Regions from separate parts of the Homo sapiens genome. Here region 1 is linked to region 2. The links come from fine-mapping of genetic effects on gene expression. Tissue or cell type: cerebellum. Region 2 holds a variant in brackets; the other region holds the start of a gene. All regions are shown on one strand. Distances are from middle to middle.

Region 1 (8,169 bases), 970 kb before region 2:
GCTGGGGACAGAGGGCAGTGAGGACATCCACCATCACCTGCACCCTCAGGTGCTCAGACCCCCGCCCCAACCAGCCCAGGTACCCAGGGGCTCACCATGAGCATCCCGGTAGTAGGCATGGGTAACACTGCGGAACCGCTCCTGACCAGCTGTGTCCCACATCTGCAGCGACAGGCACTGGTCAGGCTGTCCAGCCCTTCCCTGGTGTCCCCTGTCCCCCAACTTGTCCTCTGCCAGTCACCTTACCTGCAGCTTCACCTTCACACCATCCACGTCCAGAACTTTGTTCTGAAACAGACAGAACCAGGCAGCTCTGGCATGGGCCCAGCCCAGCCTCTGGTCCCACTAGCTTCACTGCCTTCCTGTCCCCTGAGACCTCCCAGCTCCCAGGTCCAGCCCAGCCCCTGCAGGCTTCCCTTAAGCCAATTTGACCTCACCCACACCTGCAAGTGCAGGCCTCTCCCGGCAGCCTCTGCACTATTCCTGCTTAGAGCCTCTTACGCTGACTTATTTGAACTCATGACCCCACCAGGCCTCTTACTGACACTGCCTCGGTTTCCTCATCTGCAAATGGGTGCAGTAACTAACGAGCTGCAACGCCTCAGCCTTCCCAGTAGCTCTTTTTGCTAATTTGAAAGACTCAGGATGGCTTGAACCCAGAAGTTGGAGGTTGCAGTCCACCATGATCACCACTGCACTCCAGCCAGGGCGACAGAGTGAGACCCTGCTTCAAAAGAATAAAAAATTAAAGCCACTCCTTGCTGGGATTGTCAGGGCTGGGCCTGGGCCTGTCTGACCCAAGGCAGTAACCGCAGATCCCAGAACTGCCTGGCAGCGTCCCCAGCCGGGCCCTCCCAGTTAACGATTAGACGTAAGGCAGGGAGTGGTCTAGCCCCAGTCCCATCTGTTGGGGTGGGGGCGGGGGGCTTCAGCCGCAGTCTGAGGCCCTGGGCAGCTGGAACCTGTGCCACCTCCTTCAGCCTGAGCTCCTGCTGTCAGAGTGCTTCTGGGTCTCCCGGGAACCAGGCAGGGCCATCTGCTGGGCTGGGGAGGACACCGCCTTCCCTGGCACCCTGAACGAGAGTGCGAACCAAATGGCCTCACCTCTTACCACCTGCCCGAGAGCCAAGAGGGAGGTGGGGAAGTGGGGACCAGACAGGACTGGCCTGCCCCCCTCGGGCACTTCAGTCGTCACTCCATCCCAGAGGACTTGAGGGGACTTGGAACCCCCAGACTGGAGGGAGCCCCTTTTCCTGTCCCTGGAACAGCCCTTCCTCCATCCTCCCTCTAACTGGCTCTAATTAAAGGGTGAGAAAAATGCAAATTTAAGATTTGCTGAGGACAAGCCGGCACCTCAGCACGAGGAATTCCAGCTGGTGGGGGTGGGGGTGGGCGCTCCTCACCCAAGAGCAGGGTCCTCTCCCCTAGGCAAGCCCTGGAAACCCTCGCTCAGGCTCTGCAGGGAGCATGTGCTTCTAGGGCCCAGTAAGGCCTCTGTACCGAGGCAGCACTGCTGGCCCCAAGTGGACGTGGCCCTTGACTTCCTCTGACCCACCACCCTGTAGGCAACAGTGTCCGCCTCCCCCAAGGCACAGGATATGGTCCCTCGGTAATGCCAGCCCCTGGCATAGGGCAACTAACTATGCTTGTCGGGTGCAGCCACCAGCCCAGGTGTTGGAAGGTCGAGGCAGGCAGCTTCTGGGGTCCAGGCCTCGAGCCTGTTGGTACCATGGGGATCAGAGAGAACTTGCTGCTCGGGTACCGGCGGGACTCTGATGTGGGGCCAGGCCAGGGCCTCCACTCACCCGGAAGTCAATGCCTACGGTGGAGATGAAGGTCCCCGCCAGGAAAGCACCATCCTTGAATCGCACCAGCAGACAGGTCTTCCCCACACCCGAGTCCCCCACCAGCATGACCTAGGACAAGCAGGAGGGTTGGGGGGAGTCTGGTCTGCCCTGAGCTGGCCTGGTCAGAAGGGGGCTGCAGGTGAGGAGCAGGAGTGGAGGGAGGCAGCCCAGGCCTGCAGGCTCAGCGGGGCCAGGGACCCCGATGGGCTGGACACCCAGCGTATGCCTCTGAAAGGCTGGGGCTGCTCTGTCCTTCTGCACAGTGGCCGTCTCAGTCAGCGGGGAGTGAGGGCAGCCACCTGCATCCCGGACCCTCCCTAACGTCCATACCCCCACACGGTGGACAGCATCTGGGAGGGGAGCAGGTGGGGTGGCAGCTGGGTACCTCCTAAGAGACTTGGGGAGGCCTCTGCCGGGGGCTTCTCCACATCCCAGTAGGGACATGACCCCAGCAAGGCTCGAGGAATTTGCCCCATTAGGATCAGATCTCGATCTGAAGAGGGACCTGGGCCAAGTCTGAGGTTGGGGGGAGGTGCAAGTGGGCAGCAGTCAGGCCTTCTCCCCGAAACCTGTGCTACCAAACCCAAAATGGTCCTCCCAGCCCCCTGCCAAGTCCACACAGCCTCTGCCTTGGTCTGGAGTCCCAGGGTTCCCCATCCATCTGGCAAACCTCTTCCCCCCAGCAAAAAAAAAAAAAAAAAAAAAAGGCCCACAGCCGCTGGGTTGAGGGAGGGCAGCATACGGGAAATGGTGAGACCCCGGGCGGGGGCCAGGGCACTGGGGCGCGGGACCCCTTGTGCCACCATGCCGCCTGGGGGGTGGGGGACAGGCCCTGCCAGCTGTTGGATACCCCAGACCTGGGATGGACAGCTGTGTGTGCACGATGCACCGTGCAAGCCCCACGGGGTTCCTCCCGCGTCGGCTCCGCGCCCTGGGGCCGCGGGCCCTGCACCCCCTGTCCGACCCCCAACCCTTGGCTCAGGCCGGGCGCCACCTGCTGCGCTGGCCTGGGGGGCGGGTGCCTGGCTCACCTTGAAGGCGACGTCGTAGAAGTCGACACCGCCGCCAAGCGAGGGCCGGCCGGGCTGCAAGGGCCCGTTGGGCGGCGCGTCGGGGCCGGAAAGCGCAGTCCCGGAGCGCGCCGGTCGGGCCCCGTTGGCGGTGGGCAGCGTGGAGGCAGCGGGGGTGCTGGCCCCTTTGCTCTTGGGGGTCTTCTTCCTGGACATGGCGGGCGGGCGCTCAGTGTGCTCCCGCTGCAGCCGCCGTGCCCTGGGCCGTCCCGCACCCCGCGCCCGCCGAGCCCGACCCGGACCCGAACCCTTCCCCTGGCGGCGGCGGCGGCGGCGGCGGCGGCGGCGGCATCATCCCGGGCGCCCGGCTCGCGCCCCGCCCCCGCCGCTCCACGGGCGCGCAGCCACTCAGGCCCGGCCTCCCGCCGCCGCCGCCAATGCCGTGCGTGGGGCGGGGACATGCAAATACACCCCCGCTCGGCGGGGGGTGGGGGGCGGTCAGGAGGTCCGGGCCCCGTCCCGCCCCCGATCACGACCCCTGCCCGTGGCTGCCTTGGGGCCAGGAGCCAGCTGTGGGGTGACAGGCCTGGGCCAGGAGTCACCCCGGGATCCTGAATCCCCTCTGCTGGCTGCACACCACCCCAGCTCGGTGACCCCCAAACTGGACCGCCAGACCTGGGAGGAAGGGGTGTCCTGAGATGTGGGTGCTGGGGCAGAGGGCCCGCATGGACGGGCACCGCGGGCTTCTGTCTCCTTAGCCCCAGATGCCTAGCGCTTGGCCCGGTGCCCTTCACTGCTCCATCCCCTCCAGGGTAGGCGGGTCCAGGAAGCTCCAGCCCTGGCTTGGCAAACACACCAGGCTGCTGGGGCAGGCGCCCTGGGCTCAGGTGACAGCTGGTCACCGGGAGGACACAGCGGGCGCTGCGATCTCCCCCACAGCTTCTGCCTGCTGTGCACGCCTGGGGATCTGCGGGAAGGAGGAAGTCGCTGTGGCAGCCAGCCCCCGGCCCCCTGAGGGTCCCCTCCCACGGGACTCTGCCCTCAGGGTCTGAAAGGTGGAAAGCAGAGGCCCCTGCCCAGGCTGTGTGGCTGGCCCCTTGTCCTTCTCCTCCAGGTTCGGACCTTCAGGTGGCCAGGGCCGATTCTCCAAATCCTAAGCTGGTCCCTGGCAGACCCACCTCCCCAACCTGGGCTGCACTGGAGCTCTGTCACCCCCTCTCACAGAGAAGATGGGACTGCAGTGGTCAGAGCTGGGGCACAGTGGTCCAGAGGGGTGGTGTCCTTGGCATGCAGGGGCTTCTTGGTGTTTCTTTGGGAGCTGGAGAGATGACCCAGCTGTCCCCGGAGACCTGACAGCTGTCACCAGGACCTTGGGCCCTTCAGAGACCTGAGCCCTCCCAGCTGGCAGTGCCCAGAGTCCAAACAATTGGCTGCCTCTCGGGTCAGAGGCCTGAGAAAACACAGATGGGGGGCACTGCCCAGCAGAGTGATTCCTCGAGAGGGCCTGGCAGAGGCCGTGGAAGCCTGCCCTACAGCAAGCACTGTTGTGTGCCAGGCACACGACCTCTTCAAAGTTATCCTGCAAGGTGGGTACTGCCCTCAGTGTCCAGATGGGGAAACCGAGGCCCAGAAAGGCAAGGAGCCTGTGCAAGGTCAGCAGGCTAGGAAGGGCAGAGCTAGGATTTGTTCCTGTGATCTCCAGCTCCAGAGAACATAAACCGTCCCATGGCAGAAATCCCTGTAGACTTAATCCCCAGGAACCTGGCAGAGCTGGGGGTCAAACCCGGAAGCCCTCTCAGAACCCTTCCTTGTCTCACTCCTCTGGCCCCCCAGCTCTTCCAGACCAACCCCCAGTGTGTGTGCACTGGGCCTGGGTAGAGGCATTTAGCTTCTGCAGCTGCAGCCCTGGGGACTCCAGGTGTCCACCCGCGCTACAAGGCCTCTTTCAGGATGGCTGGCCCAGGGTCTGAGCTGGGGGCCTCAGCAGCTGCTGTGCACTGGCCCCAGGGTCCTGGGCAGTGGACTCCCAGTCCAGTGGACCCCGTCCTGCCAGCTGCTGCTCAGGTACCCCCAGGGCGCGGGCAGCAGGAGGAGTTGGGTGCAAGTAGGGCATCCTGCAGGGGGAGGAGTGCGGATGGGGCCCCCAGGAAGAGAAGGAGGCAGGCGCGCTGGAGAAAGTGGGAGGCCAGGCGGGGAGGGGAGCCTTGAGAGAGCAGAGGAAACGGGCTTGCGCTGGCAACCTTTAAAATTAGGAGAGTTTACATAAAAATCCAAGTCTCTGGTTTCTCTTGAAAATGGGGAGCTCTGGGTGCCTGCATCACAGACCCCTCTCTTGGCTTCCAGCAGGCCTCGGAATCTTTGATCATTATGTCTCTTGGTTGCTGTGTTTGCCATCTGTTTCACCCTCTGGAGTGTAAGCTCTCCGGGCACAGGAAGCAGCTTGTCTTGGTCAACTGCTGTCCCCAGCAGCCAGCTCTGGGCCTCCATAAGCAGTTATTAAATTGGTGAAAGAGGTGTGGTGGCTCACGCCTGTAATCCCAGCACTTTGGGAGGCTGAGCAGGCAGATCACTTGAGGCCAGGAGTTTGAGACCAGCCTGGCCAACATGGTGAAACCCCGTCTCTACTAAAAATACAAAAATTAGCTGGGCCTGGTGGCATACGCCTGTAATCCCAGCTACTCGGGAGGCTGAGGCAGGAGAATCGCTTGACCCCAGGAGGAGGAGGTTGCAGTGAGCTGAGATTGTGCTGTTGCATTCCAGCCTGGGTGACAGAGCGAGACTCTGGGGAAAAAAAAAAGAAAGAAAAGAAAAGAGAAAGAAATGTGACTTAGAAACACAGGCCTCACTTCAGGAGGACATGTCCTTGCTAACAAAGATTTAAGGCAAGTGTGATCAGTAGTGAGGGCAAGGCTTCTGGGGGAGGGAGGGTTTGCACTGGGCTTTGAGGATTGAGCTAGAGTCCGACACGAGAGAGAAAGACAGTCCCCAGGTGGAGGGAGTCAATATGCATAGGCTGAGAGTGCTAGGAGATGGGCACTTTGTGCCGAGGTGGCCAAAGTGTGGCCCAGTTCCTTGGAGGAAACGGGAGGTAATCAAGCTGGTAAGGTAGGATGGGGTCAGCTGGGAAGGGAAACCTGAGTGTTATTCCTAGGAGCTTGGAAATTGTACAGCGGGAAGTAGAGAGCTGTGCGTGGCTTTTGAGCAGAACAACAGAGGACGCTGTGCTACAGGAATATTGGGGACTGGCAGGAGGGGATGGATGGTGGAGCCTGTAGGCCTGGAGATGAGATTGATGGGGGTTGCAGTCACCCAGGGGAGGGATAATAGGAACAGAGAGGACCTTCAGGAAAGAAGCTGTAGGCCTGGAGGCAGGGAGGGGAGGGTCAGAGTCCATGCCCATGGGCAGAGACCAGTGGGATGCTGCAGTGGGTTAAAGATGGATTAAACCCCAGCACTTTGGGAGGCCGGGGCGGGCGGATCACCTGAGATCGGGAGTTCGAGACCAGCCTGGCCAACATGGAGAAACCCCGTCTCTACTAAAAATACAAAATTAGCCAGGTGTGGTGGCGGGCGCCTGTAGTCCCAGCTACTCAGGAGGCTGAGGCAGGAGAATCGCTTGAACCCAGGAGGCGGAGGTTGTGGTGAGCCGAGATCGCGCCATCGTACTCCAGCCTGGGCGACAAGAGCGAAACTTGGTCTCCACAAAAAAAAAAAAAAAAAAGGCCGGGCGCGGTGGCTCACGCCTGTAATCCCAGCAGCACTTTGGGAGGCCGAGGCAGGCAGACCACGAGGTCAGGAGATCAAGACCATCCTGGCTAACACAGTGAAACCCTGTCTCTACTAAAAATACAAAAAATTAGCCGGGTGTGGTGGCGGGCGCCTGTAGTCCCAGCTACTCGGGAGGCTGCGGCAGCAGAATGGCGTGAACCCGGGAGGTGGAACTTGCAGTGAGCGGAGATCGCACCACCACACTCCAGCCTGGGCGACGGAACAAGACTCCATCTCAAAAAACAACAACAACAACAACAAATAAAACTAGAAAAACTAGAACAGGCAGCCAGCGAGGGCAAGGCGGGGGCCGGCGAGGGCAAGGCGGGGGCCGGCGAGGGCAAGGCGGGGGCCGGCATGGTGGGAAAGTTCAGCAGGGAGGCCTTGGGATGTCCGGATTCTTGGCATCTTCAGACCTGGAGAAGAGAGGAGTCCTGTGGGCCAGGGCAGGTCCCTGAGACAGGGTCCGAGTTTGAGATGGGCCCTGGGAGCTGGGGGCGGAGAGTGAGGTCCGTGTTCCCCTGGGAGGGGTGCTACAGCCCCCCACCCTTCTGGTGCAGAGCTGGCTCTTCCAGGGAGGGGAAGGTCTCCACGGGTTCCTGTCCTCGAGCGGAGAGAGCGCCCTGGGTCTCCTTGGGGCCTTGCTCTGGGACTTTCGCTCCTGTTACCTTCTGACGGCCCGGCCCCCTGGCATCCTTACACCGTGCCCTCTAACTCCTGCCAGTTCCTTCTGACCGTCCTGGGTGTCTGGAAGGATGTGTGCTGTGAGCCCCCAGCCAAAACGACCCCTGGGAGCCATGGATCAGGACAGTCTCTTTCTGGCCCCCATTTTCCAGCCTCTTCCCTACACTCTGCCCCCAGAGTGGGGCCCTCGGGCTGGCCCTTGTGTGCCAGGAGAGGGGGCGCAGGCACGAGTGAGGCCTCCTCAGGCTTCCAGACTCTGCCTGGAGCCCCACCCTCAAGGGAGCCTGCCCTGGCTCCTCCTGCCCCACTTCTGGCTCCCTGGATGCTCTCCAGCCCTTCCCCAGCGGCTGCATGGCCGCTGTAGCAGCCTGGGAGCCTCCTGAGGACAGGGCCCTGTCCTGCCTACTCCTGTTCCCGCCAGGCACTCGAGCGAGAGCTCTGTGGCTGAGCAGCAGAGAGCTGGGTTGGACTTCAAGGGGCTCTTAGCAAGCCAGGGAGTGGCAAAGCCGCCACGGCCTGTGCCCCCAGGGCACCTCCCAAGACCCTCCTCTGGAGCTCAGCGGTCTGTGCCCTCCGCGGGGTCCCCGGCTTGCTATGTGCCCCTGGGCACGTGGCATTCCCTGTCTGGGCCTGCTCCCCTCTCCATGAAATGAGGGGGCAGGAGGAGCCGATCTCTGAGGTCCCTTCCAGCTCAAACACCTTATGTTCTATGAAATCCGTGTGAACGTTGCCATGGAGACGTTGGAGGAACTGCGGCAGCACTGAACGCAACTTCCACCCGAGAGAGGAGCACTGAGTCACCCCAGCACGTGGGTGACATCACAGGTAAGCTCTCTCCGGTGTCCAGGTGTGCAGCAGTC
Region 2 (8,169 bases):
GCCGAGATCACACCAGCAACAACAACGACACACACACACATCAATAAATAAATGAGGAGGACGGAACAGCCACTCAGCAGCGGCTCGGTCGGCTCTCCCACCTCCCCAACCTCGCGGGGGCAGGAGAGTCCATGGGGGGGCCCCCAATCCCCGATGCCTGGTCAGCCAGGGTTTCCGTCCACCACAGCCTGGTGACTGAGGTCAGGGACCCCCAACTCACCCTACCCAGGAGCCCCTGAGGCCAAACCCCACCCACAGGGCCGCCACACACCCCTTCCACCAGTCCCGGGAGGCGCGTCAGATAAAAGCACAGCTCTCACTCCTGGGGAGACGACGGCCAGGCCCAGCCAGGGGTGGCTCTGCTGTGGTTTTGCTTCCCAGGCAGGTCTGAGTAACAGTGTGCAGGGAGGGCTGAACCCTACACCCGCCACAGCCTGGTGTCCACGGGTCACCCATTCACCACCCAACAGGGTCTCTGTGACCTGACAGAGGTCACAGAGCCTCAGTTTATCCCGAGGAAAATGGTGGGGCTGGGAGGGGCACGGGGCCAGCCTGCTGGGGAGATGCCACCATCTGGTCCTCCGGGGCTGGCAAGGGCGCGGGGCCACCCTGCTGGGGAGATGCCACCGTTCGGTCCTTCCTCTGCCCTGGCAGCCACACCTGCCTGCCCCGGCCACTCCGCCACATCTCTTCACCCCAACCCCGACTTCTGGAGCTTGGAGGAGACAGGGGCAGGGGCATCTGGGCCCAACCTGCCCAGGAGCTCCTGGCCGGGGGTGAGCCAGGTTTGGCCAGGGGTCAGGGAGGGACCCGAGGGACAGTGTGGCCCCTTTGGGGCTGGATGCTGGTCTGCTGGATGGCGGCGGCTGAAGCAACAGACGCTCACTCTCCCACAGCCTGGAGGCTGGAGTCCGAGACCATGCTGTGGGCAGGGCCGGCTCCTCCTGCGGCTGCTGTCCTTGGCCTGTAGACGCCACTGTCACCCCTCTGCATCTGTGTCCTCCTGTGGCCTCACCTAGTCCTAACCCCCTTCGAAAGGGCCCTTATCTCCAAATACAGTCACATTCTGAGGCACTTGGGGGGGTGGGTTAGGACTCTGAGATATGAATATGGGGACTCGGGGGTGGGTTAGGACTCTGAGATATGAATATGGGGGCACCAGAAGAAGCCCGTAAATGAGGCGGCTGGGGAGGCCGTGGGGGAGGGTCCAGAAAGAGGGGGCGGGAGGGACCATGGAGGGATCCAAGGAGCCGGGGCAGGAGAGCCCGTTGGGGGATCCCAGGCAGAGCCGGGAGGGACCATGAGGTGCCCCATGGAGAGGGGGCGGGAGAGTCCATGGGGGGGCGGTTTCCGGGGTGGGGGAGTGACCATGGGGTCCCCAGGGAGAGGGGGCGGGGGAGGCCCCAGGGAGAGGGGGCAGGAGAGTCCATGGGGGGGGGGGTTCCGGGGTGGGGGAGGGACCATGGGGTCCCCAGGGAGAGGGAGTGGGGGAGGCCTCAGGGAGAGGGGGCGGGAGAGACCCCGGGGGTCCCAGGGAGAAAGGGCGGTGCCCGCAGCCCGGGCACCTGCTGGGGACGGAGAGTTTGTGTCCCCATGGAGTTCAGACGCTGAGACCCAGTGGGGCCTTTGGGAGGTGACTGGGATGAGGTGAGGTCAGGAGCGGCGGAGCCCTCAGGAATGGGGTTAATGCCCTTGTAACAAGGACCCCGAGAGACCCCTCCACCTCCCACCAGGTGAGGACACAGGCAGAAGCAGGCGTCTGCACCCAGAAGTGGCCCCCGTGGAGCCCCATCCTGCCCAGCCCTTCCCTGGGACGTCCAGCCTCCAGAACCGAGAAACACACTCCCTCTGTCCCCGGCCACCACGTCCTCAGAATTTCTGTCACAGCCCAAGCACACTAGGACGCCCCCTCCCAAGCCTGTCCTGGGGGGCCCCTTCCCTTCCACCCCAACACCCCATTTCTCACTTGGAGCTCGTTCCACTCTCTGCCCCGGTCAGAATTCAGCCCTCAAACCTATGACAGACGTGTGACCGTGAGCCGCTAGCTGTGCCAGCTTGGGGGACTCCGGGGCGACGGCAGGGTGGGCCTCGGTCAGACGCCGTCCCCGCACCGTACCATGAGGAGGGCCCTCGGCCCTGAACTTCAGGCTGTCTCCGAGGGTGCCGGCGGCTGCAGTGTGTAAATGTCAGAGCCGGGGCTGAGGCCCGGGCAGCAGGGGACCCGGCCCTGGAGGGGATCGGCCCTGGGAGAGGCCTGGGGGACAGCAGCCCCTGGTGGAGTCAAACTCCATCCAGCCTGTGTCACTTAGAAATCCAAGGGTCCGAGAGTCCGAGATGTCCTTTGTAAATGTCAGTGGAATGACAAAAAGGGCCGCCCAGGACAGACACCTGAAGGTGGCAGCCTGTGAAGTCAGTGACCTTTGGGGTTCAGTGTAGGGTTCAGAGAAGGTGCGGAGGGCCTGGGGGAAGCTCCTGGGGGGAGGGAGTGAGGCTGCCCAGGCCTTTTCCAGCGCCTCCTCCCAGCCTGGGGACTCTGCCCCCACCTAAGCCAAACCCAGGCCACCCTGTCCACGGAACATCCTCACAGCAGCCGTAGCAGACACTCAGCCCTCAGAAAGCCACATCATCCTTAGGACCCCCTCCCCGTCCCCTGGGGTGAAGAGACGCGGGGGAAGGGCCGAGGGGAGGCAGGACAGAGGCAGCTCCCCGGCGGGGCGGCCCCGCTCCCCTCCCAGCACCATCATTTTCTGGGCTGATAAACTGAGCTTCATGAGCATCCCCTGTGGGTCACAGAGACTTGGTGCCCAGCCGGCCCCCGGACCCCCATCAGCCCCCTGCTCACTGCTACAGTGGCTGGTCCCGGGGCCTGTGCAGACAAACCCGGAACCCCTTGGTTGGGGGGTCACCTGAGACCCAGATTCCATTCTCGGAATCCCCACAGCAGCCCAGGCCCGTCACCTCTGAGCATGGGGGGAAGTACTGGCCCCAGGCCTCCTCAGCCCGAGCCACAGGTCATTGCCATGCCCACCTGCAGAAAGAGACGGCAGCTGGGGTCCATGCAGAGACCCTGGTGCTGCCGAGAGTAGGAGCGGCCGACCCCACTCTGCGGGGACAGCCCTCCCAGACCCATGCCTGGCTGTCCTCACAGCTGGACCCAAGGATGGGCAGGGGAGCTCCGAGACATTGCTGCTGCGCCTCGCCCCTGCCCTCCCGTGGTGGGTGAGATGCCCCGTCGGGCACTAATTAGAGCTCCAAGCTCAGAACCGACAGTCAGGGCAGCTCCAGCACAAACATCTCTAACCACACAGCATCTGTAACCACACAGCGTTTATGTTTAATGGGTTAGGCTGAAATTCCCAAAGTCTAGAACCCAGCTGAGCCATTATGCAAGCCAATCTGCGATGAGGTGTAAAGATCAGAGCCCGCTAGACACGGTGTGTCCTGTGACTGGGCGATGGGAGTGGGAGGCGCCTCCACGAACGGGGTTGGGACCCAGCAGCCACCAGGATGTCCTGGGAGCATGGCAGCCCCCAGGCCAGGTCCAGACGGAGGAACTGGGGTCAAACTCCAGGCTGTTGCAGAGCCTGCACTGGGGGTCCGGGCAGGAGGAATGGCAGCCCAAGGTCTGCCCGAGACGGGCAGGGGCCACTGGCACACGCCCCTCAACGCACCATCCCAAGCCCAGCCCAACTCGCCCGCGGCCTGCAACGCCCACTGCCCACCTACCTGCCCAGCCTGGGAACACTCCTACGCAGCCCTCAAAACCCACTCCCAGGATCTTCCTCTAGGAAGGAGATCTGGTCTCCTCCTCCTCCCTCCGGCATCTGCGGAGTAACTAGTGTGTGTCAGGGACCGCTTCAGATTCTCGGACATGAGAGTAAATGGACGGGGCCAGCTGTCAGCAGTGGGCACGGCAACAGTGAAGGACAAGCTCGGGACACGGCGAGCAGACGGGGACCTAGAGTGGGTGGTGCTTAGGAGCTGGAGGCTACAGGGTGGAGGGGCAGGGGTGCATCCAGCCCAGGCCAGGGCCCAGCAGGAGCGACGACACAGCAGTGGGGAGTCCTGAGGGCCCCAGACCCTGTCTCCTGTCAACCCCCTCAAAGCCCTGCCCCACAACCAGCCTGTATAATGCAAAACTACCAAAGGGACCTGCGGGGAAGGTGAGTGGCCCTCCCGGGGCTCCC[C/G]AGAACCCAGCAGGGGACCCCACATGCAGGAGGGCTTCCCTTGGTAGGCACACCTACACACACAGTAGAGCCTCACACCACATAAGGGCTGTGGACATTAACCTGTGCGCACAGTAGGGCCTCACGTCACGTGGGGCAGTGGGCGTTGGCCCGCGCGCACAGTAGGGCATTACGTGGGGCAGTGGGCGTTGGCCTGCGCGCGCAGTGGGGCCTCACATCACGCGGGCCTGTGGAAGTTGACCTGTGCGTAGAGTAGGACTCCTGATACACGGAGCCACCACCTAGCTGGCCTCACAGTCCATGCAGCCCTGAGACCCACCACGGAGCCATGGCCAGGCCCGGCTGGTGGGGGTGGAGGTGGGGGGTGGGGGGGTGGACGTGGGGGTTGGGGGTGAAGGTGCGGGTGGGGGCCTCCCGCCGGCCCCCTGCCTGCCCACCGCCAGCTGGCTGCAGACCTGGGCCCCGGGGAGCCTCGAGGCCAGGGCCACGCCAACTCGGCCATCCTGGCTCTCGTCCATGTCTGAATCGATCCACCAACGACTCGATCCATTAAGTCAGATCGGAATTCTTGGAAGCCAGCAGGAAAAGGAAGGCTCTGTGAACTGTCTGAGTCATTTTTTTTTAAACTAACATTGGGCGCCTCTCCTCTCCCAGCTGGGGGCTGGACACACGCTGTTCTGCTGTGTTCTGGAAGGTACCTCTGCCCCTGCTTGGGGAGGGGCCCAGACAGCCCTGAGCGTGGCAGGGGCTTCCCTTCGAGAGCTACAGTGACCCCATCCTTCCTTCCCTCCCTCCCTCCCCATGGCCACACCCCAGCTGCCACCCTGCAGAGTCCAGGCTGGGCCAGGTGGGCTGTGCTGACCGCAGCTGTTGAAAGCCTCATGCCAGCACCCCGAGATGGAGCCCCCCATCCTGGCAGCAATGGGCTAAATTCATGCTTGGCTGCTGTGAAACATTAGTTACCTCCATATCCTGGGCTCTGGGGTCTAGCTCCCACCAAGGGTGCGCTCCAGGAGAAATGAGAGAAAGGCAGCTGGCCCGTGGCCATGGGGTGGCCTTGAACCCAGGAGCCCCACAGGAGACTTCAGCCGGGTGCCATGAGAGGGAGGAGCAAACTGAGGCCGCCAGGACCTCTGCCCTTCCTTGGAGACTCTCTGCTTCAGTCCCCTCATCTGAGGGGCCACGGCTCTGTGGTGGGTCTCAGAGCTGCATGGACTGTGAGGCCAGCTAGGTGACAGCTCCCCGTATCAGGAGGCCCACTGTATGCACAGGTCAACTTCCACAGGCCCGCATGATGTGAGGCCCTACTGTGCACGCAGGTCAATGCCCACAGCCCCACGTGACGTGAGGTCCCACTGTGTGCACAGGTTAATGTCCACAACTCCCATGTGGTGTGAGGCCCCACTGTGTGCACAGGTAAATGTCCACAGCCCCACGTGACGTGAGGTCCCACTGTGTGCACAGGTTAATGTCCACAACTCCCATGTGGTGTGAGGCCCCACTGTGTGCACAGGTCAACACCCACAGCCTTTCAGGAGTAGGGGAATTCTCCCGGGGTGAGCCTGCTGGTTTAGACCAGTGGTTCTCAGCACGGCGGCCGGGGAGCCCCACCCTCCTTCCCTCACCCCTCCGACGGGCGTTCCCGGATGCTTCCACCAGGCCAGGCAGAGGGTCTTGCAAAACTGCAAAACACAGCCCCTCTTCTCACTGAGTTTTTAACGTTTTGAGAAATATAACCTTTTCCATAAAAGGACGTGTTATGTTAACACACAAAGGGCTTATTATTGTGGTTAAGTTAGTAAACAATTTTTTAAAATTTTTCATGTTAAATACTAAAAAAGTAAATAGCGAGAGAGAGAACCCAGGAGCAGAGGCTTTGGGCTTCGTCCGTCCGCACCAGCGTGAAGGGGCCCGAGGCCTGGAGGCGCAGCCGCTGTTCTGGAGGTTGTGGGGGAGCACGCCTCATCCCACACTCCGGAAGGGCATCCCACTACCCCAGGGCTCTGGCCACCTTTTGCCTGCTGGGCCTCCCGATGCCACCCACCCAAACCCCTGCAAAGCTCCGCACCCCTTTCCTCCCTGCCTGGCCACCAGCACCCCATCTACTGCCCCCTTCCAGCCTCGGCCTTTTGGACACCTCCACCTCGCGCCCGTCAGCTGCTTAAACACGCTAGGACCTCCAACTTGCCCCACACCTCGACACCCCAATATCCACAAGGACACTTGGGCTTCCCAGCTCCCCAGGCCCATGGCCACACAGAGGGCTCTCCACGCCACACCCAGGGCAGGTCTGCGGCCCTGGGACTCTGGCCCCACCCCTCCCCTCCCTCCCAGGCAGCACCCACCTGCAGGGACCTGGTGTCCCTGGGGCCAGCTGCCGAGGACCAACAAGGCTTAGGGCCAGTGACTGCGAGAGTCCCCACGGGGCTGTCCTGGCCCTGATCACAGCCCCTGCCCCGCCTCGGAGGAGCAAAGCCGTGAGTCCTCCCAGCCCACAGCCCTGGGCCTGGACAGGAGCCCTCGGGGGCACCCAGGCAGCAGCAGCCCACTCCGCCCCTGGGTGCCCCGGGGAGAAGGGTGCCCCAGCTCACCCCATGCACCTCCCTGCCCCACACCCATGCGGGTGGCTCTGCCCCTGTGGCTACAGGAAGCCGGTTATGGGAAAGCGGCTGCTTTAATAATAAATCGTTTAATTACAGAAGCCGGGAGCTCCTGCTAGGATCCAGCGGTGTGGAGTGCAGACTACCCACTGCTCCCACGCCTCGGGGTTCCCTCCACAGAGCGGGTGATGCTCGGGACAACACACAGGTACTTACGTGTCCTGCTGGGGACCCCACGACCACCCCAGACGGAGGCGGGCCAGGCCCAGGGCAGGGTGAGGGCAGCCGCGCTGCCACCGTCTAAGAGGGGAGGACGCCTGGGGGCAGCCTAGGGACGGCGTGAGAGGGGCCCAGGTAGAGCCTGGAACATTGGGGATGGCACGGCCTGGCTCCCCGAGCTCCTTTCTACTCAACAGGCAAGGCTGCGGTGATGCACTGTGGGGGGAGCCCCAGCCCCAACTCCCTGCCAAGCTCCAGGGGCGGGGTCAGGCAGGAAAGGCAGACTCGCCCTGGGCCAGCCGGATCGAGGCACGCAGCCACTCTCGCCCCTGACACCCACCGTGTGCGGCCCACGCCCTGCGGCCCGGGGCCCCGTCCACCCCAGCATCATCCCGGTGACGTCTGACACCTGCAGGCTGGCTTCAGAGTTCAGTGAAGGCTGCTGGGGACCCCAGGACCTTGAGCCGACCCACTCGGACTCCACAGCACCTGGCGGGGGGCCCACGCGAACCCCATGCCGCACTTGGACCCCAGCGTCCGTCCTGGCGCCCGCCTGGCCTGTGAACATGCCCCCACCCGTGGACACTGCTCCCTGGCCTTGGGCTCTGCCCTGACCCTCTCGTCTGTGGGCGAGAAGAGCCCAGAACAGACGCCTCAGACCCAGCTGGCGCTCGGAGACGGAGCCGAGTTGGGGGTAGTGTCTGCCCAGCCTGAGAGGGTGGCAAAGTTGTGGACGGTGGGAGGCTGCCCAGAGCTCCAGGGACTCCAGGAGGGAGGGAGGGTGGTGGTCTCTGTGGGCCGAGGCACGGCCCAGGAGGCGGGAAGGACGGAGGCAGCCCCCAGGCGGCCTTGGCAAACTGGAAATGAGGGAACCCCACAGCTCCGAGGGACAAAAGCCGCCTGAGGCGCCTCTGGTTTTCTGCGGCAGCCAAGGGAGTTTAATGCCTGGAAAATAAAACCCACCCTGACCCCCATCTCCATTCGACCTTTGTTTCCAGAAGCTTCCCGCGGGCCTCCTCCGGGCTCCAGGCTCTGCAGACTCTGTGGTCAGAGCCCAGGGCCAAAAAGTGGGCTGCGGGGGTTCTCTGCCCGGGAACCCAGTGACTTTCTAAGGAAAGCCTGTCCCCAGGGCCACTGGCCCATCTGGGCCTCGTCCTCTTACC

The links. PIP is the estimated chance that this variant, and not a neighbour inherited with it, causes the effect.
Region 1: it holds the start of RAB26, and the variant in region 2 is fine-mapped to the expression of RAB26 in cerebellum (GTEx, PIP 0.93).

The regions. Positions count from the first base shown.
Region 1 is chr16:2,143,688-2,151,856 of GRCh38, reverse strand. It overlaps RAB26 (RAB26, member RAS oncogene family), which reads right to left and starts at 3,232. Exons shown (of 9, transcript NM_014353.5): 1 at 2,879-3,232; 2 at 1,806-1,916; 3 at 247-288; 4 at 96-162; 5 at 1. The coding sequence starts at 3,073. RefSeq lists enhancers at 372-923, 924-1,473, 1,474-2,025, 2,026-2,577, 2,578-3,129 and 4 more and silencers at 2,672-2,741, 2,762-2,891, 2,902-3,071, 3,162-3,251, 3,262-3,531 and 1 more.
Region 2 is chr16:1,171,332-1,179,500 of GRCh38, reverse strand. The region is part of intron 2 of CACNA1H (calcium voltage-gated channel subunit alpha1 H); the gene reads right to left. Among named protein-coding and RNA genes, the nearest start is that of CACNA1H, 22 kb to the right of the region's middle. RefSeq lists an enhancer at 6,213-6,714. The variant C/G (reference allele first, on the strand shown) is at 4,188.